Regions from separate parts of the Homo sapiens genome. Here all the other regions are linked to region 1. The links come from fine-mapping of genetic effects on gene expression. A gene starts in region 1. Each other region holds a variant in brackets. All regions are shown on one strand. Distances are between the middles of the regions.

Region 1 (8,177 bases):
ACACCCGGCTAGTTTTTGTGGGGTTTTGCAATGTCGGCCAGGCTGGTTTCAAAATCCTGGCCTCAAGTGATCAGCCCACCTTGGCCTCCCAAAGTGTTGGGATTACAGATGTGAGCCACTGTGCCTGGACAAGGTTTTTTTTTTAAGAGATGGGGTCTCACTCTGTTGCCTGGGATCATCTTGACTCCTGGCCTCAAACATTCATCCCACCTCCTCGGCCTCCCAAAATGTGGGGATTACAAGCATAAGCCATCATGCCCGGTCTGGTTTTTTGTTGTTGTTTTGTTTTGTTTTGTTTTGTTTTGTTTTGTTTTAGAGACGAGTCTCACATTTTCCCTAGGCTGGACTCAAACTCCTGGGCTTAAGCAACCCTCCCGCCTCAGCACCCCAAGTAGTTGGGACTACAGGCACACATCACTGCACCCAGCTCGTAGATGCTCTTAATATCCTCATTTTCCATTGCCTAAGGCTCAGAGAGGTTAAATAACTTACTTAAGGTCACACATCTCAGATTTGAGCCCATGTCATTTGACTCCAGAGCCTGTAGTCTTATCTGCTATACTATACTGCCACCCTATATTCCTGAAAATGTGACTTTCCTGGGGTCATTCAGCCCAACTGAGAGCCACCTAAGCATTAATTAAATTGGTTCTGGATCCTCATTCTTCCCTCCTGCCCTGCACCACATTTTGATTGGAGCTTTGAGTCTCTTTTCCTTCTTTTCTCTCCCCATCCCTCTAGCGACAACAGTGCTTGTTTTTCTCTGGGGAATAGACAACGGCCAGGGTCCTGATACCCAGGATGGATTTGTTTCAGGTGGAAGTTGATTCTGAGCTGGAACAACCAGTGCTCCCTACAGAGTGGGTCGGGCAGTGGCCTCTCATTGTAGGGGCTGGAGGTGGCTGTACTCCCTGGCCTCTGGGTTCCCAAATCCTCCAGCTCCAGCTGTGATGCCTTTCAAGGGAAGACTTTTGGAGTCTGTGAGCAGTGTCAGGGAGCTCTTGGGGCTCCAGGGAGTAAAAAGCTTCTGACTGAGTCATGTCAGAAGAACCAGCGATTTGGAATTGGGAGACCTGACACAGAGAAGATACTGGGGTTAATGTGTAGAAACCTTTGGTTAGGAGGCATGAGTCCTGCCCTTTACATTTGAAAGCTATGGATTTATTTTTTTGAGTGTCTTCCTGGAGCAGAGACCACTGGGCCCAAAAAAGAAAACCACTGAAACCAGATGGTACAGGGCTAACCCTGGGGCTGAAGGTAGTGATTTGCTTTTAGGCCCTGACTGCTCCTCAGGGAGCAGTGAATATTTTTGGCAAAAAGCCTGAGAAAGAGTCCTTGGAAACTAGAAAGAGAATTGCTTTCAGCTGACTGGGAGGCTAGAGGTTGGCTGAGGTCCTAGAGCCAGGGACCCCAGAAGATGATGCTTTTTTCTGGGCAACACTGAGGGTGAAGGCCAGCTGACCCAAAGGGGGTACAGGGGGAGGGGATGGGCATAGGGAGTGCCATGTCCACCCAACATACCTAACTAAAAGCCCACTCCAGCATGGCTGAAACCCTTTGTTATGCCCTCTGAGATGACCACCCTGACTCCTCCCCACAAAATTAATGTGTCTTCCACTGGGTTTTTTAACAGTTGGACCTCTCTGCAAGACTCCTTGTACCTCTCTAGCTTGCTTCACTTTGCCTTACAGTGTAGTTATTATTATTTTTTACCCCATTGAATTATACATGTTTAAGAGAATAACAATGTTGTAATGACAATGTTGTAGTGCCTGGCAGGATGCTATATATAAATAGTAGTATCTGAATAAATGTTTGAATGAATGAATGAGAACCAGGTGAGAAAGTGTGTGTGTGTGTGTGTGTGTGTGTGTGTGTGTTTAGAGGGTGTTTACTCTTGAGAGAAAGAAATAAAAAGATGAGAGAAAAGGTGGGATGGGAAGAAAAGAACCCAGGACAAGAGTAAATAAATAATTATAGCCAGGCGCTGTGGCTCACGCCTGTAATCCCAGCACTTTGGGAGACCGAGGCAGGTGGATCACCTGAGGTCAGGAGTTCAAGACCAGCCTGACCAACATGGAGAAACCCCATGTCTACTAAAAATACAAAATTAGCCGGGCATGGTGGCTCATGCCTGTAATCCCAGCTACTTGGGAGGGTGAGACAGGAGAATTGCTTGAACCCGGGAGGCGGAGGTTGCAGTGAGCCGAGATCGCGCCATTGCACTCCAGCCTGGGCAATAAGAGTGAAACAGAGTTTCCCAATAAATAAATAAATAAATAATTATAATAATTAATAATAAATATGGTGTTTACCATGTACTGGGTATATCAATGAAATGTTGTCATGTGTAGGACCTAATTTAATATTCACAACAATTGTATAAGGTTGGTATAACTGTTGTCCTTATTTTACAGATGATGAACTCAAGTCTCAGAAAAGAAGGTAGCTTGCCCAAGTCACATGGCCTGTAAGTAGCAATACCAGGACCAAATACAGGTCTATTGGCCTCAAAGGCCCAAGCTCTTCACTGTTAAATCATACTTCTATTCAGCCTCCTCTTGTTGTGTTTTCCCATAGCCCCTGTGCTTGCTCGCTCTTTCTTTCTTTCTTTCTTTCTTTCTTTCTTTCTTTTTTGAGATGGGGTCTTACTCTGTTGCCCAGGCTGGAGTACAGTAGCGTGATCACAGCTCACTGCAGCCTCAACCTTCTGGTCTCAAGCAATCCTCCCACCTCAACCCCCTGAGTAGCTGGGACAACAGATGCTCACCACCACATCAGGCTAATTTTGTTTTTTTTTTTTTTTTGGAGAGATGGGGGTCTCATTATGTTGCCCAGCCTGTTCTTGAACTCCTGGACTCAAGCAATCCTCTTGCCTTGGCCTCCCAAAGTGCTGGGATTACAGACATGAGCCACTGCACCTGGCCTGATTTTGTATCTTTAGTGATATCTCTTGCTCTTAGAACAATGCCTGATATATAATAGGCACTTGATAAATCACTCAATAAATATATACCTACGGTTTGACCAATAAGTTGGCTACTGACTCTTAAAATGACAACCCCCAGGTTTCCCTAAAGTCTTCTTCCACTCTTCCTATCAAGTCTGCCTGCCTTCCTTCTGCCCTTCAGTCCCCCCAGTGGACACCATTCCCCTCTTCAGCCTTAACCTAAAGTTGGACTAGTGGACATTAAATGGCACGGCCAAGTTTTAGTCCCAGACGATCCCTGGACTCAGCAAATGCTGATCAAGTGACTGTCTCTCTCTGGCTTAGGATGGAAAGATGCCAGGAAAGATCGAAGCATCTACCCTGATGGGTTACACCAGGGCTTCTAGAAGGGATTTTGTGGCAGGAGGAAGGGGGGCAGGGGATTGAATGTCTCTGTGACTTGTGCAGGGCAGCATGATGGATGAGCAGTGGAAAGCCCTTCTATGAAACATGCCAGACCTGTTGCAATCGTATCTCTCCCGACGGCCCAGAATTCTGTTTCCCTGAAGACATACTAAATCGTGCTCTGGATTTATATGTGGGTGGTGACCTGCCTCTGTGCTCCCAAAGGAGGTCTGTCTACAGATGCCCGGCAGAGGAAGAAACAGATGACAACAGGGGGAGGTTTGAACCCTCTTCCCAAGAGCCTTGGAACTTCATGGAAAGTGACAGCCCTTTAAGAGTTTCCCGACTTCTGCAGATCCTTCTCTCTTTCCCAAACAGCCTGCCAGTTTTCAGTTTTGGTACACAGTAAGGATTTATTCTCTCTCTCTCTCTCTCTCTCTCTCTCTCTCTCTCTCTCTCTCCCTCTCCTGCCTAGCTATCTCTATCTCTAAGTTTGTCTTTCTGTCTCCTGTCTCTCTCTTAAGAAGTGGCCAAAGGATCCTGGAGCCTCTGATGCTCAGCCTTCAGGTCCTCCTTGGCAGAACCTGGGTAGAAAGAAAATGGGTAGGCAGGGGGTTAGGAGTAACAGCTCCTCATCTTGAATCTAGACTTTCCTGGAGCTGTATACACCTGGGAGCCCCCCAGCACATTACCAAATACTGTAGAAGGAAGTCCATGAACCACACATTGACCACAGTGATACGTCCACCCGGTGATGGAGTAGTAAAATACGCTCTTGAACGTGCCCCGGGCTGGCGAGTTCACCGGCCCTCATGGCCTCGTCCCTGCTTGTCTGGCTCTCCGTGGCTGTGATCTGCTTCTGCCAGCCTACGCATTTTTGTATCTTTTTCTCATTGCGTGGCCCCTTGTCTTTAAAAGGCTAAACTGCTCTGTACTAAATTTGGTCACGCAGCGCTCCAAGATTCCCTGGAATGTCCTCAAGTTTCAAACAGCTCTGACAGCGAGGTAGGCCCGCCCCCAGCTTGGGGATTGGCTTCTCCTCTCCGGGCCTGGCAGTTGTCGGGTCTTATTGGCCGCTGATTAGACCAGCCGGGGTCCACTAGCCCTGGGCTTCAGGGAGGCTGCTGCGTCCAGTGAACACTTCAGCACCTGTAGCACAGAAGGGCCAAGGAGCTGCAGTCCTCGACCAGCAGGAGGTTTGCTCCTCAGCCCACTCGCTGCATCCAGATCAGCTCACCCCTCTCCCTTCCCTGCCCACCAGGACTCTGATAGCCCCTGGCAGCCACAGCCCATTTTGCCAAGATGTCTAGAGTAGCCAAATATCGCCGGCAGGTGAGTGAAGACCCCGACATCGACAGCCTGCTGGAGACCCTGTCTCCCGAGGAGATGGAGGAGCTGGAGAAGGAGCTGGACGTGGTGGACCCAGACGGGAGTGTTCCCGTGGGGCTGCGGCAGAGAAACCAGACGGAGAAACAGTCCACGGGTGTGTACAACCGGGAGGCCATGCTCAACTTCTGTGAAAAGGAGACCAAGAAACTTATGCAGAGGGAGATGTCCATGGATGTGAGTGAGCACAGCCCTGGAGGGGAGGAGGGAGACAGGGGAGGGCTGGAGACCCTGGCTTCATGATTAGGATGCTTCCTTCCTTAGAAGAAACGTTCTTGTTGGCAAAGGATTTTAATGCTTCAGAACTGATGATTATCCACTGAACTAGCGGTGCGAATCTCTTACTCCTAATTTCTGTTTTATAAGCAGAAGTCGGATATGTTGGAGGAACACAACATCCCACAAAATCAAATAGAGCTACTAGTAGAATGGGAGCTGGAAGGTGTCCTTGAAGAGTCCATTGTCAAGTTGACTCCATCCTGGTCCCACAATACCTTTGTTTTTCTCCACACTCATTCCATCCTATTGTGAGGAGGGGTAAAAAGAGAGAGTGATACTTTATGTCTCCTGTCAGCCACCCAAAAAGACAAAGCTAAGCCATTTTTTGTGGGAGAATAACTCATTTTCAAGTCCCCAACCCTATGGGCATCTCACGGCACATGGATCATTTCAGGAGGCTTGGGGGTAAATGAGTTTCCCAAAGCAAAGGGAGACAGGGACCAGGAGTCTATGGGCTGGGAAATGTGGCTTAAAGACCTGATAAGCTTCAAATTTATTCCCAGGGAAGATGTTTTTTGTTGTGGTTAGTTGGTTTTTGGTTTTGTTTTGTTTTTGCACTCTCCAGAGGAGCCTCTGGAGGGAGCATGCCCTCTTTTTGGTAATTAACCCTTTAGCAGCTGGCGAGGCCGCTTTGCTGGGGGTTGAAGATAGTCATAGAGGAGGGAAAAGGGGTGACGGTTTTGGAAGCATCTGCCCACACCTACAATGGGCTTAAGCACAACTTGCTTTCTGTTTTCCTGAGTTGGCATGGAGGAATTTTTTTTTTGTCACTATTGCATTGGTATGTGAGTTTTCTTTGGACAAACTAGCCTCCGATGAAGTATGACTTTGTGGGATACCTTTGTCCATGGGAAAGAGTGTTGCATAGGAAAATTGTTCAAGTCTTTGTTCTAGTTCTCTTATTCAGCCACATCTCTTGTACATTATCCATTACTTGTGAATTCTTGCAAGAAAAAGATCAGTCTCAATTCTTGCTTTTTGTTTTACTTCTATGGAAACTGAGGCACAGAGCTTCAAATGACATGCACATTCTCACAGAGGAACTGAGAATGGGAACATTATCATCCAAAATGCCTGCGGAATGACTGGCTGGGTATGAAATTGTGTTGACTGCTAGTCACAGAGCATATTGGTGGACACAGCCCTGACTCCTTTAGTGTAGCAATGGGAAAGAAGGGAGGAGGAGGGAAGGGGGTGAAGCAAAGAGGAGCTGGAACTCTGTCTCTGTCCCTACCGCCCCCCCCCGCCCCACCACCTATGTTTAAGCCTTTGCCAAGAAGAGGGAGAAGGAGGGAGGAAGGAGGGAAGCCAGGAGGCTCAGGAATTTATTGTCCTGTATGCACAAGGTGGTTGCCCCAGATGCAGCTATGATAATGATAAATAAAACCAAAACATTTACAGAAAAAGTGGTAGCACTTACTGTGAGGGCCCGGTACCCCAACACAGCTATCAGGAATCATACAGAAAGAAATGAAATGCAGCCAAAGGCTTTGGCACCCTTGGAAATCGTTGACTCTGCTCTTCCCCACTCCCAGTCGCAGGCTCTGGGCCCATGACTGCCTTGTGTCCGGTAGCTTCCAGTGCTCAGAAAGGTACTCCTGAGGCTGAAGTCAAACAAAGCAGTCTAATCACAAGCAAGAGTGTGAAGGATTCTCCTGTTCCTGGAAATTTCACTATCATAGACTTTTTATTCAGCCAGTTAATACCGTGACAAGTGTCTCCTCCCCTGCCTCACCTCTCTCACCCCTGCCAGGTCCACACTTGGTTCTGCGGACAGAGCCCGAGTCAAGAAATAGAAGTGGTGTGTGTGTTTGTGTGTACATCCTTGATGTAAGGAGATGCCTTTAGGTCCGGTTTTCCCTTGTGGATGTAGGCTGTTCTGATCCCCTCACTCTTCCTCACCCTGTCCAGGGACGTACATTGGCATAATGGCTGGCTGGAGTTCGGGGTGCATGCTGAGCCTGGGCAGAAGTCATCTCTGTAAATCTGGGTGAGAATGAACCCTAGAAGGTGGCTTCTTTGGCACCATTAACAAAATAGTGAGTGTGTGGCCAAGAACTTGGATTTAAGTATTAGAAAAACCTGGTTTGAGTAATGGTGTCTCTGTGTAAGTCACAAGTTACCTAATCTAAGCCTCAGTTTCATCACCTACAAAATATGGATAGTAGTACCCATCTCACAGGGTTGTGAACACTAAAAGCGGTGCTGCGGTAGAGCACTTAGCACAGAGCTTGGCGTGTCATAAACACTCAGTCAAGGCCAGCTATGAAATTATTACTTCATCTGAGTCAAGGAACCCAGAAACCGGTGAAGTGGGCCGAAAGCAAATCTCTACTCCTGTCCAGCCCCTCTCTTCCCTCAGTTTCCTGAGGGCTGTGCAAGCCTCACCTGTCAGTTTAATGAGTGGCCCGAGTAAACAAGCAACCCCTGGGTGCTCAGAGTGGGGACCACCAACACCACAGACACAGCACCGTGCTGGGGGCAGGTGGACTCCAGGCTGCTGGCCTGGCTGCAGCCCTCACTGACGGTGGCCTTCACTCCATGTGAGGAACTGAAAAGTGGTCAAAACAGAGAGTAAAGCAAGATGAGCATTTACTAAGAAACTTCTACATGCCGAGCACATTCACCTTTTCTTTAAGCCTTACGATTCTTGGGAGATGTGTATTTTTATTCCTATTATCTTAGAGAGGTTGAATAACCTTCCCAAAGTCACACAGCTAATTAGTTGAGATCAGTGCTTCTTCCTCTCTGCCATACTAGGGTGCAAAAAAGACAGTAATGTCAGTCCCTGCCCTGAAGAATTTGTAATCCAATTAGATTCCATGCAAAACACACATGGATAGAACCATCAGAGAGTGCTACAGAGCAGAGACCACAAATTCTTATATTGGCTGATATAATAGTCTTCTGTCAAATGTTCATCTCCCTGCCCCCATGAGTAGGAACATAACTAGAAAAACTAAGTGTGGATTAGGGAAAGTAAATCCTGACTAGATAGTGGATGCTGTTAAGGAATTTCTATTAATTTCTTTTAGGTGTGATAATGGCATTGCAGATATACTTTTTAAAGGATTCTTTTCTTTTAGACATAAATACATAAATATTTATGGGAAAAATTTATTGGCTTTGGGAATTAGCCTTAAAATAATCTGGGTGGGGGTATATATAGATGAAACAA
Region 2 (8,177 bases), 29 kb after region 1:
CACACTTATTATTGTCTGTCTTTTTGATTATAGACACCCAATAGGTGTGAAGTATATCTCATCACGGTTTTGCCAATCTCAAAGGGCATGGATTTTGTTTCATTAAATAATGTGGTGATTTTCTTTTTCTTTTTTTTTTTGAGATGGAATCTCACTCTGTCGCCCAGGCTGGAGTGCACTGGCATGATCTCAGCTCACTGCAAGCTCTGCCTCCCGGGTTCACGCCATTCTCCTGCCTCAGCCTCCCGAGCAGCTGGGACTACAGGCGCCCACCACCACGCCTGGCTAATTTTTTGTATTTTTAGTAGAGATGGGGTTTCACTGTGTTAGCCAGGATGGTCTCGATCTCCTGACCTCGTGATCCGCCCGCCTCAGCCTCCCAAAGTGCTGGGATTATAGGCATGAGCCACTGCATCCGGCCATAATGCGGTGATTTTCTTGACCTATTCTGTAAGTCCCTTTCCTCTTCCTGATAACTCACTTTTCAGAGTCACCATATTTACTCCCGTGGTTTTCATTGCTACGTATACACCAATGACTCCCAAACCTACCTGTCAAGCCTAGATCTCCTTTCTGAGCCCCAGATCTTTTTTTTTTTTTTTTTTTTTTTTTGAGATGGAGTCTCACTCTGTCGCCCAGGCTGGAGGGCAGTGGTGCAATCTCAGCTCACTGCAACCTCCACCTCCTGGGGTCAAGCAGTTCTCCAACCTCAGCCTCACGAGTAGCTGGGACTGCAGGCTCGCACCACCATGCCCAGCTAATTTTTGTATTTTTAGTAGAGATGGGGTTTCACTATGCTGGCCAGGCTAGCCTCGAACTCCTGACCTCGTGATCTGCCCGCCTCAGCCTCCCAAAGTGCTGGGATTACAGGTGTGAGCCACTGCGCCCAGCCCAGATCTTTATTAATGCCAACCTGTTAGGCATTTAAATTTTGTCATGGCCAAAACAGTTGATCATCTCAAGTGCCACCCTCATCTCCCCGCTCCATATTCCCCGCCATGGTTATAAGCATCACTCTCTAACCAGGCAACCAAACTGGAAATCAGGGAGTCATCCTCCACTTCTCCTCGGCATTGTCCACTTCACTGAATCTTATTAACTGTACCCTAGAAATGTCCATGGAATGCATCTCCACTCCTCTGTGTTCACTGCTCAGCCTGGTCCAAGATCTCATCATTTCCTTTCTTTTTTTCTCTTCTTTCTTACTTTTTTATTTATTTATTTATTTTTATTTTTAGAAACAGGGTCACACTATGTTGCCCAGGCTGGTCTCAAACTCCTGGGCTCAAGCAAGCCTCCTGCCTTGGCTTCCCAAAGTGCTGAGATTACAGGCGTGAGCCACCGCGCCCAGCCTCCCACCCCCTATTCTATATTCGCTGGGTCCTGCACTGTGTAGAGGCCACTTGGCCTCCTTGATTTAATGGCTTGACATCCTTGTTTGCTCCCTGTCTTCCCAGTAGGTCTTGGCTTTTCTTTCTCCCTTCCAGTAGAATATCCAGACCCACCTCCTAATTGTCCTTGAGCTTAAAGACTCAGCTTACTCCTCAGCTATTTCTCAACTATGATTGACTTCCTCAGCAAGCAAGTGGAATTCTGGTCTCTGTGGCCTTGGCATAGGAAAAACCGGTGTCTCCAAGGGCCTCAGCTGCTAAAAGGGAGCTGCATTTAGGAGTTGTATTGACCCTGTAGCATGATGTCTTTCCAGAACAATTCACAAGGCCTGGGAAAGTATGTCATTTTACTGGGGTAGTAATCCCCAGTCAGAGAGTCAATGGTGGGTGGGAGGCTGAGGCGGGCGGATCGTCTGAGGTCAGGAGTTCAAGACCAGCCTGGCCAACATGGAGAAACCCTGTCTCTGCTAAAAATACAAAAATTAACCAGGCGTGGTGGTGGGTGCCTGTAATCCCAGCTACTTGGGAGGCTGAGGCAGGAGAATCACTTGAACCCCGGAGGTTGAGGTTGCAGTGAGCCAAGATCATGCCATTGCACCCCAGCTGCCTGGGTGACAAGAACAAAACTTGGTCTCAAAAAAAAAAAAAAAAAAAAAAAAAAAAGAGAGAGAGCCAGTGGCGGGTGGAGATGGCATTGAAGCCAATATATTCCTTCTACTCTTTGAAGTCCTGGGCTCTTCTGGAGACTTTAGGAAGACACTGAAAAAGGCTGCTTACAATAGTTTAGTGGCCAGGATGGAGAGATGTGGACTGGAAGGTGATGCAGGTGGATGCTGATTGGTGGCTCCCTGGAGGCCTGTAGTAGGATACCAGAGAGTTCTGCCCTGGAGTCTGCCCTGGTTAGTGGACAAAAAGATCCAGAAGGCACATGTACCACACTGGCAGATTATCTGAAGCTGAGAGTCACAGTGAGCTTTTAAACAGCAGAACCAGGATTTAGAAAATTCTAGTCAGGCTGGAATGGCAGGCTTAGTCTAACAGATGAACTTTTCTAGCCCACAGAAAAGCAGCCTCAGGGAGAGGACCCAATACCTACAGAGCACTCACATAGAAGAGAAGGGGTCACCTTGCTTTATACAGTCCCTGGGAATAACAGGACCAAATGGGCTTTCTGACACAGAGTCAGGTTAAAAAAGAAGAAAAGGGGCCAGGCGTGGTGGCTCATGCCTGTAATCCCAGCACTTTGGGAGGCCAAGGCAGGCAGATCACCTGAGGTCAGGAGTTTGAGACCAGCCTGGCCAACATGGTGAAACCCCGTCTCTACTAAAAATACAAAATCAGCCGGGCATGGTGGTGGGCACCTGTAATCCCAGCTACTTGGGAGGCTGAGGCAGGAAAATTGCTTGAACCCAGGAGGCGGAGGTTGCAGTGAGTACCACTGCACTCCAGCCTGGGTGAAGGACTGAGGCTCTGACCCCCCAAAAAAAAAAAAGTTTCTGTCTTTTAGAGATACACACTGAGGCCAGGCATGGTGGCTCACACCTGTAATCCCAGCAAAAGTGAGGCCAAGGCGGGAGGATTGCTTGAGGCCAGGAGTTTGAGACCAGCCTGAGCAACATAGCAAGACCCCAGATCTACAAAAATAAAAGTTAGCCAGGCATGGTGGCACATGCCTGTAGTCCTAGATACTCGGAAAGCTGAGGCAGGAGGATCACTTGAGCCCAGGAGTTTGAGGTTATAGTGAGCTATGATCATACCACTACACTCCAGCCTGGGTGACAGAGTGAGACCCTGTCCCTAAAAAAGAAATAGAGTACACACTGAAATATGTATGCATGAAATGATACACCTGGAATTTGCTTTCAAATAATGTGAGATTGTGACAAAAATGGGTGGGCATCAGATGAAACAAGATTGGCCATATGTAGAGAATCGCTGAAGCTGGGCAATGGGTACCTTGAGGTTCATTGTGCTGTTCTCTCTAGTTTGTTGTACAGTCGAACTTTTCCACATATAAAGTTAAAAAGAAGGAGGAGGAACAAAAGAAGAAGTGTTAGCCAGGCAGAGAAGAAAGCGAGAGGACATCCTGTGTGGCAGGAGCAGCATGCATAGGCAACAAGACCCAAGAGAGCCCAGCATGGGGTAGGGCAGCAAGACCCAAGAGAGCCCAGCGTGGCTGTTCCTCACTGTAACCAGAGTGCAGGCAGGAAGGGGAGGGCGCACAGAGGCAGGCACAGGCCAGGTCACGGAGGGCTTTGTTGCCATGCTACAAAGTCTGCACTTCATCCTGAAAGCATGGGAGCCATGGATCAGAATCACATTTTGAAAGGTCTTTCTGGAGACAGAGTGCACTCAAAGAGAAGGAAGACAGGAGGCAGGGGGTTCAGTGGGGAGGCAAGAGATGATGGAGGCCGCAAACACAGCAATGGTGAGGGGATGTGAGGAAGCTAATCTCAGCTATGTTAGGAAGGTGGGATGAAGGGAACGTGGTGAGGGAAAAAGGAAGCGTCAAGGCTGATGTCCCAGTGTCTGTGGGGTGGGAGAGCCATTCCTGAAGAGGGAGAAGGCGGGAAGACAGAGAGCTGCACCATCCCTGATCCCTGGCCTCTTAGGCCTAGGACTGGCTACAGAATTTGCAGGGCTTAGCGCAAAATGAAAATGTGCTCAAGAATTACTAAAACTTTCAAGACGATGACAGCAGAGAATTAAACCAAGCGTAGGGCCCTCTGAGCATGGGGCCCTGGAGCACTGCAGAGGTCAGACACCATAAAGCTGCTCCTGCTTTAGCCAATGTACCCTTTTCTGTTTAGAAGGAACAGGAGAGGGGCTGTATGAAAGCCAGGCCTCCTGCTCACAGCCCCAGGCAGTAAAAGAACAGTATGTTCCTTCTGCCACCCTCCGGGACCTAAGTGGGACCCAGAAGCCTGGGACAAATAGCTTGCATTTGTGTAGATCTTTACAACATTTCCCAGACTTGCTTGGGTTTTCCTTGGTGCTGGGATAAAATGAAGAAGCAGAAAGTACTAGCCAGGCACTTCAGAGAGCAGAGTGCTACAGTGACTTGTT[TA/A]TCTCCCCAAAGAGATTTCCCGGTTTCTCCAAAAATGGGGTTTGCTACAAGCTTCCCAGTATGAGTCACCAGACCAGTTGGCAAAGCATTTAGTTCTGCTGAGAGCAATGGAGTTGACCCTTCATTGGCCGAGAAGATCTGCCACAAGAACCTTCATCCCCCTAGTGATGGGTTCTGCATAACCCCCAGGCAGAAGCCAGAATGGCGCTGACTGTGAAGTCTTAGCTATTGCAGGCTGTGTTGCATGCCCTCACCTCAAAACGCCTCTGTCTTTCTCTACTTGCAGTGAATGCAGAAGCCTTGGTGGTAGGGGTAAGGGCCTAGGTGAAACACAGACACCGCTCACCGTGCCTTCCTTTCTGGTGCCTCTTGATGGCTCTTGGCAGGCTTTTGAGGTCAGGCCACCTTCCCCCATTTACCATCCCTTTCACTAGAAACCCTGGTCCTTAAAGACTCAAGGCAGGCAAGAACCCTCCCAGCCTTGGCAGAGTTTGGTGACACATGCAGTGTAAGTGCCCAGCCACCCACATCTGCACATTATCCTTGTCTTTTCCAGAAGGTTTCTTTGCTCCCCTTCCCTACAAAGACAGAGCAGGCCCTGAGATGGTGGCGTTCACTCCTCTTGTAAAGCCTGGTCTCCCGCAGGACTGCATCAGAAAATGCCCTTTTTTTCCCAGGTTCACAAACCGCTGCCCTTTTCTTGGCTGCCATTGCGCCACTCCGACCCCTGGAGATCATCTTGGGAGGTAAAAATGAATCATGGCGTTTCTGTTTATGCTGGAGCTGGAGGCAGTGCCTGAGACCCTTTGGCCCTCTGCTCAGCACTGATGTTTATCACCGGGGCTGATGTGTAATTGCTGGAACAGAGCCAGGCGAAGGTCAGGCTGCGAGGCAGGTCCTGGGCACAGCACAGCCGGGCTGAAGACTGAGCACAGTGACGGGGAATCCCCTCCCTCCCACCTCTGGCCCCATCCATCCCTCCTCCCCACACCACGGCCTGATGCCTCTTGGTTTTTAATTTTGTTTTGTTTTTGCTGTGAAACTCAGTTATTTAAAGACAATTTTGTTTCTTTTTCATAAAACAGCTTTTGTTGGTTTTTGTTTTGTTTTGTTTTGTTTTGTTTTTTGAGACAGGGTCTCTCTCTGTTGCTCAGGCTGGAGTGCAGTGGCATGATCACGGCTCACTGCAACCTCGACCTCCCTTGGCTCAGGTGATCCTCTCACCTCAGCCTCCCAGGTAGCTAGGGCTACAAGCACATGCCACCACGCCTGGCTAATGTTTGTATTTTTTGTAGAGATGGAGTTTCACCATGTTGCCCAGGACGGTCTTGAACTCCTGGGCTCCAGCTTCCCCTCACCCTGACCTTCCAAAGTCCTGGAATAGATGTGCCTTTGTTGTATTTTTCTGATCATAAAAGTAGTTCAAGCCAGGTGTGGTGGCTCACACCGTAATCTCAGCACTCCGAGAGGCCAAGGTGTGTGGATCGCTTGAGCCCAGAAGTTTAAGACCAGCCTGGGCAACATGGCGAAACCCCGTCTCTACAAAAAATACAAAAATCCGCTGGGTGTGGTGGTGCATGCCTGTAGTAGCAGCTACCTAGGAGGCTGAGGTGGGAGGATCACAAGCTGGAGGAAGTCAAGGCTGCAGTGAGCCGTGTCACACCACTGCACTGCAGCCCAGAGGAGAGAATGAGACCTTGTATCAAAAAAAAAAAGTTCAGACATTAGACACTGAAAGGCTTCGGATGGGTCTGGCCTTCAGCAAGGTCCCTGGGGCTGCCGTGCAAGGATCGCCCTGGAGGAGGTCAGCGAAACCGAGAGGAGGTTGTTGCTATAACCCCATGAGAGGTGATAGTGGCCTGGACCAAGGGAACATCTGTGAGGATGGAGGAGAGGGATTGATCTGAGTGGGGTTCAGGCTGTAGTATCTGTGTGCAGGTAACGAGGGAGTATATAATAGGTCGATTTCCCAGCCTTCCCCCAAAATCACTTGGGCTACTGGTAGGGAAGGGTGAGTGAGTGCAGAGCGGGGTGCAGAGGGGTCCACGTTGCCTCCCCACAGATCCCTCCTTTCCTCTTCCCAGCCGGGTTCTGATTGGAGTCACTGGGTGTTTAGAGGAGCCACTTGCCCAGATAGGGAATAGTGCAGGGGTCGGCAAGGCAGTGGGGGAAGATAAGGAGTCCAGTTTTTGAGGTACTTTGGGGCACACAAACCAAGATATTCATTAGACGGTACTACCTTCCTAGTAGTGTCTGGCCCAGAGATCCAGCTTTGAGAGACATCAGTACGTAGAATGCAGCTGATGCCATCAGAATGGATGAGATAATCCGGTGAGAGGCTCTAAAGGTGAAAACAAAGGAGGCCTAAAATAAGACCTTGCCAACACCCACATGTCTCAAGGAAGAGGGTCCTTGAAGGAGGCCTAAAGGAGCTATCAGAGAGCTAGGAGGAAAGCCATGAAGGCTGCGGTGGAAACCGATGGGGAAGCGTTTTGAAGGAAGGACCTGGCCAATAGCGCCAGATGCTTCCCACGCAGTTTGAGCAATATATGAAATAAAAGATAAATCCGACTTAGTGACAGGAGGGTCAGAAGTGATCTGGATGAAACTAATTTCCATGGAATGTTGGGGGTGAGGCAAGAGTGTGTTGGATTGAGGAATGAATACGGATCAAAAAGTAGAGCTCTTTGAGGAAGTTTGGGTATACGGGAAGGCTGGCGCTACAGCTGGAAGGGACTGTGGACAGAAGGAGGATCTGATTAACCGGGAGAGATGGGCAGGTTTAAAGGGTGGTGGGAAGGGGCCAGGAAAGAGGGAGAGGCTAAGGCTGTGGAAGAGGGTGCGGGAGTGCAATGTGGGGAGGAGGGGTGGGCACCAGAGTGCGTGGGGAGGGGTGAGCCTGGGCAGGAGGAGAGGGAAGGTGAAAGATGAGCCTGGAGGTGAGTTTGTAGAAGAGGTGGCAGGAAGTTGGAGAATTGCCATGGGTTGTTTCCTCTGTCTGCCTGGGAAGAAATTAGAGGAGATTGTCTGCCAAGAATAGGGGTGGAGTGGGACGAGAGATACTAAGAGAAGGGAGAAGAATTCGGATAGATGCTATGAAGAACCAGGAGAGAGCTAGACCCATAATGACAGTTACCTTTTATTGAAAGCTTCCTGTGCAGCCACAGGAAGTGGATGTGTTATCCACTCACCTCAATGAAGCCTTAATACCGCCCCGTACCAGATGTGATCCCCGTTTTACAGATGAGGAAGGCAAATTAACCTGTCCATGTTGACATAAGAGCAAAGTGTGGAACCCTGGCCTTCTGACTCTCAAGCTGGTCCTCAGCATTGGCGCCACTTGTGAGTGTTAGGGTTCACAGGGGCTGCAGACAGTGGACGGCACCACGTGGGGTGTGGGCTACTCTCCCCAGATAGCCCAGCACCTGGGAGGAGGAGCCACACAGGCCTGCAGTCAGTGCTTTGGCTGTAGGGTTGGGGCTTTGGCTGGCACGTGTGACTGGGGTTGAGGATACTGGCAAGGTGATGACTGACGTGCTGGATAGAACAAGAGGTGAAGCAGTCAAGGTGGGTGGTGCAGAGAAGTCAGAATTTGGGTCTCATGGCCAGCGGTTCCACTTTTGGGTCCATCTACACTCCCAAAGAGTTGAAAGCAAGGACCCACACAGATATGTTCATAGCAGCATTATTCACAATAGCCAAAAACAGCCCAAGTGTCT
Region 3 (8,177 bases), 270 kb after region 1:
GCCTGTTTTCTTTATAAACTGGCCAGCCTCAGGTATTCCTTTTTAGCAATGCAGAACAGACTAACATACATAGTACTGAATTATAACTCAGAGTATAAGATAAACACTCCCATGAGTACATTGTGATATAAATCAATCACTGAATAAATGGGGGAGAGCAGACAAGTCTCTCATACAGAAGAATTCCAAATAATTTACAAGTATTATGATTTATATAGGAATGACAAACCTATGCTCCATGCCCCACATCCCTCTTTGCATCACTCCAAAGCAAAGCCTCCCTGAGAGAGCAGAGTGCAGTGGCCAGGAACCAGACACCTGTTCAAAACCCCTTTCCAAAACTTACTAGCTGGATGACTTCAGGCAAGTTACTCAACCTCTCTGCCTCAGTTTCCTCATTTGCAGAAGGAGGACAAAAATAATTTCAACTTTGTCGGCCTATCATGAGGACTTAAGACACGTGAAGTATCTGGTGACTGGGGGAAGACAGCAATGTGCAGAGTTATTAAATAGAATAAGTATTTGGTACATAGTAAGGGCACCATACATTTCAATAACTGGTTTGTAGGGGTTCAGAAGGGAGATGTTGAGAGGAAGGAGGAGGTCTATAGAAACCACAGAGAAGGTTACCTACAAACAGCTTTCAGCAGAGGGGGTCCTCAGGGGTGCCAGGCAGTCTGAGATGGAAAAATCAGGACCTTGCCCTTTAGGGGTGGAAGGAGCTCTGGGCTGCTCATTTTCACGTGGCTGACTCACTTTCCCAGATGCACACCGGTAATTAGAGGACCAGGGTTTCTGGTTCTCCAAGCACCTCCAAGCCCTTTGGGAGATGAGTTGTAAATGAGACCACTGCCGGTTTTGTGAAGAGAAAGGTGCTTTGAGGGCCAGCTGGCCTCCCTCTGCCTTAATTGTGGCCTCTCTGCCCGCAGGCTCAGGAGGTTGGCTCCCCGCTGCAGTCAGGCAGGAGGGGGCTTCATTTGGGTAACTCCTGCACATTGCTGTCTCCCCCCCAGTAAATAGCCCCACCTCCAAACCCCCAGCATCCTAACCACCTCCTCCCTTCTGGGCTCCCCGACCTTTGTCTCCACGGGAGCCTCCCCTCCCTAGCATCCTGTGTCCCAGCTGGAAGCAGATGGAGGGGAGGGGCTGCCAAACCCCTCTCCACCCCACTGGATGCCTCACGGGCTCTCTGGTGGGAGCCTTCCTCCTTCGACTTTTTCTCTCAGAGCTGATGCTGTTGAGTTTGGGTTGGGAGGGGGGACAGACAGAGGGAGGTGTGTCCTTGAGTTTGAGCTTGTGGGGAGATTCGTTGTGGTGGTGAGTGGGTGGTAAGAAACAATGAATTTGCAGGGATGAATGCAGCCTGGGACTTTGGAAAGCAGCCTCTTTTGTTGGAGGCTGGGTGAAGTCAGAAAGCTAAACAAAATTGCTGATACAGTTACTCCTTTATCACTCCTTTCTTCTTCGCTGAAGGGGCTGAAGTTACTAGGAAACTCACTATAGGAGAGGAGTTAAGAGTGCAGGTTTCAAATCCTGGCTGTGGCAATTATCAACTCTGTGACTTCCAGCGGAGTCCTTGCCTTCTCTGTGCCTCAACACCCTCATCTGTAAAATGGGGACAAGAGCACCTACCTCAAAGAGTTGGAGTAAAGACTGATCAAACTATTACTCATAAAGTGCTTAGTTCAGTTTCTTGCACACAATAAGCACTTGAAACACACCAGCCATTGGAGCGCTATCAGCAGCTTTCAGGAAAGTTCAGAAAGGCTTGCTTTGGCAGCAGCAGCTTACGTTGAGAGGTAGGAGGCCCGGACTTGTGTTCTAGTATTTCCACAAACTCACTGCCAAGTCAGTTCATAACGTAGCTCCCTCATTTACCTTTTGGGGATATTAATATTTGTCCTACCTACTTTATCAGGGTGGTGCGAAAATGCAATCACATTTGGCAGGATACATTTCTGAGATGTTTAATTCATGGTGCCTCCCTCTGTGTAATTCCACTCCCCAGCTCCCATTCTGAGCAGGTCACCAGGTTTCAAAACTCTAAACTTCGGGGACATTGGACAGAATAGGAAGCAGAATGGGGCAGCATGTTTGGTGAAAGCTTCAGGCTATTAGGAAGGTGAGTTTGGCCGGGTATGGTGGGTCACGCCTGTAATCTCAGCACTTTGGGAAGCCGAGGTGGGCAAACTGCTTGAGCTCAGAAGTTTGAGACCAGCCTGGGTGACATGGTGAAACCCCATCTCTACCAAAAAATAAAAAAAATTAGCCAGGCGTGGCGGCGCATGCCTATGTTCCTAGCTACTCACGAAGCTGAGGTGGGAGTGTCGCCCATGCCTGGGAGGCGAAGGTTGCAGTGAGCGGAGATCATGCCACTGCACTTCAGCCTGGGCTGGAGACCCCATCTCAGAAATGAAACAAACAAACAAACAAAAAAGATGGTGAGTTTAGGGGAAGGGAAGAGACCACTTTTGAGAAGCAGAGAGTGGGCAAGGCTCTCCTGAACTAGAAATGAAAAAAGCACCGTGAGTCCCAGGAGCAAGCAGTCAGATGCATTCCCACACCCTGAGGGGGACGGGGTGGGGTAAACAGGAGGAAGGGACATTGGGCAGAGGCTGCTGGCCTTGGCAAAGAAGTCCATGTCCCATGGCACAGAACTGGAGAGGCACTGAGGAAACTTGCAGGGATCACAACATAGTGGTCCTTTCCTGTTTTCCAAGCTTTGCTCAGACCTTCTGGACCTGGGGTGAGCCTGGGGTTGGGGGAAAGGATGCCAGCCGCCAGCAATTCTTTTTTTTTTTTTTTTTTTGAGATGGAGTCTCAATCTGTCGCCCAGGCTGGAGTGCAGTGGCACAGTCTTGGCTCCTGCAACCTCCACCCACCAAGTTCAAGCGATTCTTCTGCCTCAGCCTCCTGGGTAGCTGGGATTACAGGCACGCACCACCATAACCAGATAATGTTTGTATTTTTAATAGAGACAGGGTTTCACCATGTTGGCCAGGCTGGTCTCAAACTCCTGGCCTCAAGTGATCCACCCATCTCAGCCGCCTAAAGTGCTGGGATTACAGGCATGAGCCACCGCGCCCAACCAGACCCCAGTAATTCTGACTTGAAATGTCTTGCCACTCAGGAGGGTAGGGGCTCAGAAGTAGAATTACATTGGTTTAAAGACAATCAAGAATGGGATGTTTGTTGCCTGGCCAAGTTTGTGGGCTGCTATTTAGATCTATTACACACAGATTCCAAAGCTTAAAAAGTATGGAGTGCCAGAAACACAGTATTTGACATGATTATTAATTATCTAATTATTTTGGTATAAAAATGTTTGGCAAGAGGGGAATGGGGAAGGTTCGCCAGGGCCAGAAAGGGCTTGGGCTGCAGCTTCTGAAAGATTGTGTTCACCTTTTAAAAGCAGAGCTGGTTGGGTGTTGCGGGGAGAATGGTGGAGGAGCTACCGGGAACCCCAGCCTGGACCACTGGGGTGAAACTATTTCCTGCGAGTCAGCTCTCCCCAGCCGCTTCCCTCGCTGTGTGGCCTGCTTTGCCTCCCTGAGGCTCCCTGACTCCTCCCCTCCACT[G/C]AAGGTCCCAGCACAAGGAAAGGGGACAGAGCTGGGCCTGTGCCTAGGAAGCCGACTCTGTGTCCTCCTCAGCACTTCTGGGCAGCTGCATTTCAGTCTTGGGAAGGAGAAAGGGAGAGAAAGAGTCCCTGAGCCCTGAAACCTGAGCCCAGCCTGGCTGAAATAAGTGCAGCTTTCAGGAAGGAGTCAAACTTTCTCAGGCTAAAGCTTCCTCTTAAAAGCAGAGGGAGTGGCTGCTGGGAGGCCAGGTCTCCAGAGTCCCCAGGGCACTTCCAGGAGGACCTCTCTGCAGGAGGCCAGAGGTCTGTGCCTCAGTAAGGATTCATTAACACCCTATCTCAGAAAGAGGGGCTGGAATTATCTCCTTTTGGTAGGCAATAGGGTAGGAAGCAGAACCGGCCAGCATACTTGGTGAAAGCTTCAGGTGAGTTTAGAGGAAGAGAAGAGATCACTTTTGAGACGCAGAGAGGGGGCAAGACTCTCTTGAACTAGAAGTGAAAAGAGCTTTAGGTACAGGGGAAACTGGGGCTTGGGATGGTGATTTGGGAATAAATAATTCTAATTATGAATGATGATTTATGAGGCCGGCCACTGGGCCAATGAAAAGTTTGCCATTCTTTTCTTCCCTCTTGAGGCTCCCCGTCTGCCATCCAGCTTCAGAAAATGGTTCCAGATAGGCAAACTTCGTTGCCTCAGGAGGCCAGGGTTTAGGGTGGAGTGGAGGGAGAACATGAGTTTAGAGAAGTGAATTTGGACAGAACTGTAGGGGTTGTACCCCTCAAATTCCATCGCTTTGTTTTAAACATCATCCCACTTTCAGGAAAGGTAACTTGGGGAAGAAGATGGAGGGAAAGAGACGATATTTAAATGTGCAAATTCCTCTGGGATGAGTAAAATACAAACACCTTACCAAGTGCCTGGTTCATTTTTTGTTGTAAGTTAATGGTAAGTAATAGTAGTGTTTATGGAGCAGTTCCTTTGAGCAGGCTAAGTGCACTGTCTAAAAGCAGGGACTTTTATCTCTCTACCATGGTGAAGAGGAAGCTGAGGTTACACGAGGCTGGCCAGCCCTGGCCTTGTGACAAGAAGTGCCCGGTCAGAAAGGAGACGATAAGCATGGAGGATCCCGGGGCAGGGATCTCAGGAGCAGGGGACAGGCAGCAGTAGGACATTAACTTTGTGGCTTTTATGGTTTTGTCAAGGAGCAGATTTGGCACTGAAAGATACTGTCAAGCATTCACCAAGGAAATGGAGGACATGTTGGTGTGACATGGTGGTGGACAGATTGGTACCTGGTGTAGTCTGGAGGCCGTTCCCTCTAAATCTCATGTGGAAAGGTCATCCCCAGGTCAGAGGTGGGGCCTGATGGGAAGTGCTTGGGTCATGGGAGTGGATCCCTCATGGCTTGGTGCCATCCTTGCCATAGTGAGTTCTTTTTTTTTTTTTTTTTGAGACAGAGTCTCACTCTGTTGCCCAGGCAGTGACGCGATCTCCGCTCACTGCACCCTCAACCTCCCAGGTTCGGGCAATTCTCCTGCCTCAGTCTCCAGAGTAGGTGGGATTACAGGTGCGCGCCACCACACCCAGCTATGTGTGTGTGTATTTTTAGTAGAGATTGGGTTTCACCATGTTGGCCAGGCTGGTCTCAAACTCCTGGCCTCAAGTGATCTGCCCACCTCGGCCTCCCAGAGTGCTGAGATTACAGGTGTGAGCCACCGTGCCCAGCCAGTTTTCGTGAGATCTGGTTATTTAAAATTGTGTGGCACTTACCCCCACAACTCTCTCTTTTGCTCCCTCTGTCACCATGTGACAAGCCTGCTCCCACTTCACCTTCTGCCATAAGTAAATGCTCCCTGAGGCTCCTTTGAAGGCTGAGCAGATGCCTGCACCATGCTTCCTATACAGCCAGTAGAAACATGAGCCAATTAAACCTCTTTTTTAAATAAATTATCCAGCCTCTGGTATTTCTTTACAGCAACGCAAGAATGGCCTAACATACATGTTTTGCTGGAGGGCCTCCAGGAGGGCTCCTGGTACCAGCAATGACTATTTCTTAGAAGCCCTGGGCTGGGCCCTGGACAACCCCCCCCAACACACACTCATTCCAGGAGGAACCCAAGAAGGGCACAGAACAGAATCATGGGTAGTGCGGCACTGCGGCAGACATCCCCCACCACCCTTCCTCTCTGCTGCAACCCCTCTTCCAAAATACTTTTTGATTTTAGACAAGTTTCCATGGCAACCCAAGTCCCCATCAGCCAGAGGGTTACCATGGCGACTTAACTTGGCTCTGCGTCCACAGCTAAGGAGGGCCCTACACCTTAGCTGGCAAGCAAGGCTCACAGAAAATCAAGTGAAGGGAGGATTGAGGCCTTGGCTTGCTGTGGGGCATCTGGGCACCTGGACACCTGGGCTGGCCACCTGCCAGGCCTGGCAGCGAGGTCTTAGAGCAGTGGCTGGCGCAGTCCCCAACAGGACTGAGAAATGTTGGCTTAGGCTTTCCTAGTCTTTGGTTGCCGCTTCAAGGCACTGACTGGGCCCTACCTTCAGATGAAGCACCTTCTCCATGACTGCTGCCCTTCACGTTTGACCTCTTCTAAGAATCCTTCCCTAACTCTACCTGGCTTCAATAGCTTCTCTTCGACATTCTCTTGGTATTTATAGACTCAGTTTACAAAGTGCAACTCTTGGGCAATATTCCACATCTAGGCTCTAGACAAGGCTGCTATTCAACTGCTATGCCCCTTACAGTGCCCACGGCTACATACATTCTGTCCTATGCCTGTGCCTTCCCTTGTTAACGATCTGGGTCTTGAACTCTTCTGCCCTCTCTCCCACATCAGAATGGGGGCTCTCTGAGGGCAGGGCCTGTTCCTTGCGTTTGAATTTCTGCATTGAGCTTAGCTGAGGATGCAGAGGGATGGGGAGGTGAGAATGGCCAATGCTGAGAGTGGCCAATAGTAATGTGCCTGACCCTCCCAGCTGTGAAAAGGAGAAGAGAGATGTGAGGTCAATTTTCATTTTTTGGGAGGCTGACAATCTGGTCTGTAAATAATTGAGGCTGCTACTTCAGCTGTTTCACTGTCTCTCCATCTCCCATTTTACCACTCTCCAGCTACTATGCCAAGAGAAGAGAACAGAAATGAAATCTGATAAGTGTGTGCCTCCCACGACCATCCCTTATAGACGCACTCTCGCTCTGCTCGTAGATGCCGCGGCCCATCTGTGGGGCCTGCCTGCCCACGGGCCGGAAGTGTTGGACTCAAAAGCAATCCATCAAATGCGGAGACACATTTGCACTGTGTTCTGAAATACATTTTTAACTTTTATTGCATTCTCACAGAGCCTAAAACAATAAATTCATTAAAGAACAGCAAGAGTGTAGATTAAGCTCACTTTTCTATTTAGCCTGCAAAAAGAGGTGTGTTTAAAATTAACGGCAGTATTTTTTTTTGTAAAGACCAGAGTCAGGCTTTTCTTCGGTACTGCTTGCTGATTGGCCAGTGGGCAGAGTTCTACATGTGGGCCTAACATGCACCCCAAGGGCTTCAGTCGTCCCCACTGGCATCGCCATCAGTCTATGTGCGTCCACAGGGCAGTCGAGCTTGAGCGTCTGTTGGGCGGTAAGTTCTCAGAGCCCAGTCTGTTTGGCAGGTTTTTTACAACATGCAAACCAAGCTTGCCTTCCAGAAGCATCTGAGTCCTGCTCTGACCACAGGGACTTCTTATAGGCTTTCTTAGAGCATCATGTATATCCCTCTGCAAAGCCACCTTATTTCTATGACACCCTGAAAGGCAGCAGAGCCCAATGGTTAAACACACGGCGTCTTGAGTTCTGCCACTTACTAGCAGTAAGAGCTTAGATAAGGAACTTAACCTTTCTTTGCCTCAGGTTCCTGGCCCATAAAATGTGAATGATGATCACAATAACATCTACCTCATAGAAGGGCTGTGTGGGTTCACTGAACTATTATACATAAAGCACCCAGAACAGGGCCTGGCACAAAGAAATTGCTCTATTATCCAAAATCTGGGTAAACTGTCTTGACAACCAGTTCCCAGGGACTTTCTGTGCTTAGAAAGAAGGTTCTTTTAGGCCAGGGACTTTTCAAATTGCAGGCTGTAACTCATTTGTGGATCATGAAATCAATGTAGTGGATTGCAACCAGCAATTGAAAAAAAATTAGACCACATACAATACAATCAAGAAATCACACATACAAAAAACTTAAATATATTGTGCATAGTATTGTTTCATAAAACTTTTGACTCAGTATGTGTGTACTGAGTTTGCTGAAAAATGTATTTCTGACTTGGAGGATCAAGGTGGGAGAAAAAACGTTTCAAATACAGTGCTTTAGGCTGTTGTCAGTTAGTAGTGGCCTCAGTGTGAGTGAGTTCTTGGTTCAGTCCTGAGAGAAAGTAGAGAAGGAAGAAGAGAGAGGAAAGCTTTGGCAGGCTAAAGAGGAGAGACGGGACACTGCTGATAGAGTGGGAGTGGGAGAGAGGCCGGGATGCGGAGGATCAGGATGGCAGAGAGAGTCTTATATCTCTGACATTTTACCCTAAGCTGGGCCTGCTCCTTGTGGAGAAATGGAG

Alleles and levels. Positions count from the first base shown, and alleles are read on the strand shown. Sizes are in standard deviations (SD) of each study's normalised expression. Not every link is listed here.
For the expression in tibial nerve of the gene that starts at base 4,429 in region 1, TA is the high allele of the variant in region 2 and A is the other (small effect, 0.23 SD a copy in GTEx).

What was found. PIP is the estimated chance that this variant, and not a neighbour inherited with it, causes the effect.
Region 2: its variant is fine-mapped to the expression of LMOD1 in tibial nerve (GTEx, PIP above 0.99). The same link has a PIP of 0.9 or more in atrial appendage, lung, sigmoid colon and subcutaneous fat.
Region 3: its variant is fine-mapped to the expression of LMOD1 in whole blood (INTERVAL, PIP above 0.99).

Annotation. Positions count from the first base shown.
Region 1 is chr1:201,942,800-201,950,976 of GRCh38, reverse strand. LMOD1 (leiomodin 1) reads left to right here and starts at 4,429. Exons shown (of 3, transcript NM_012134.3): 1 at 4,429-4,897. The coding sequence starts at 4,637.
Region 2 is chr1:201,913,923-201,922,099 of GRCh38, reverse strand. All of the region lies in intron 1 of LMOD1 (leiomodin 1), which reads left to right. Among named protein-coding and RNA genes, the nearest start is that of LMOD1, 29 kb to the left of the region's middle. RefSeq lists an enhancer at 7,391-7,891. The variant TA/A (reference allele first, on the strand shown) is at 4,458.
Region 3 is chr1:201,671,883-201,680,059 of GRCh38, reverse strand. The region is part of intron 5 of NAV1 (neuron navigator 1); the gene reads right to left. Among named protein-coding and RNA genes, the nearest start is that of MIR5191, 44 kb to the left of the region's middle. The variant G/C (reference allele first, on the strand shown) is at 3,579.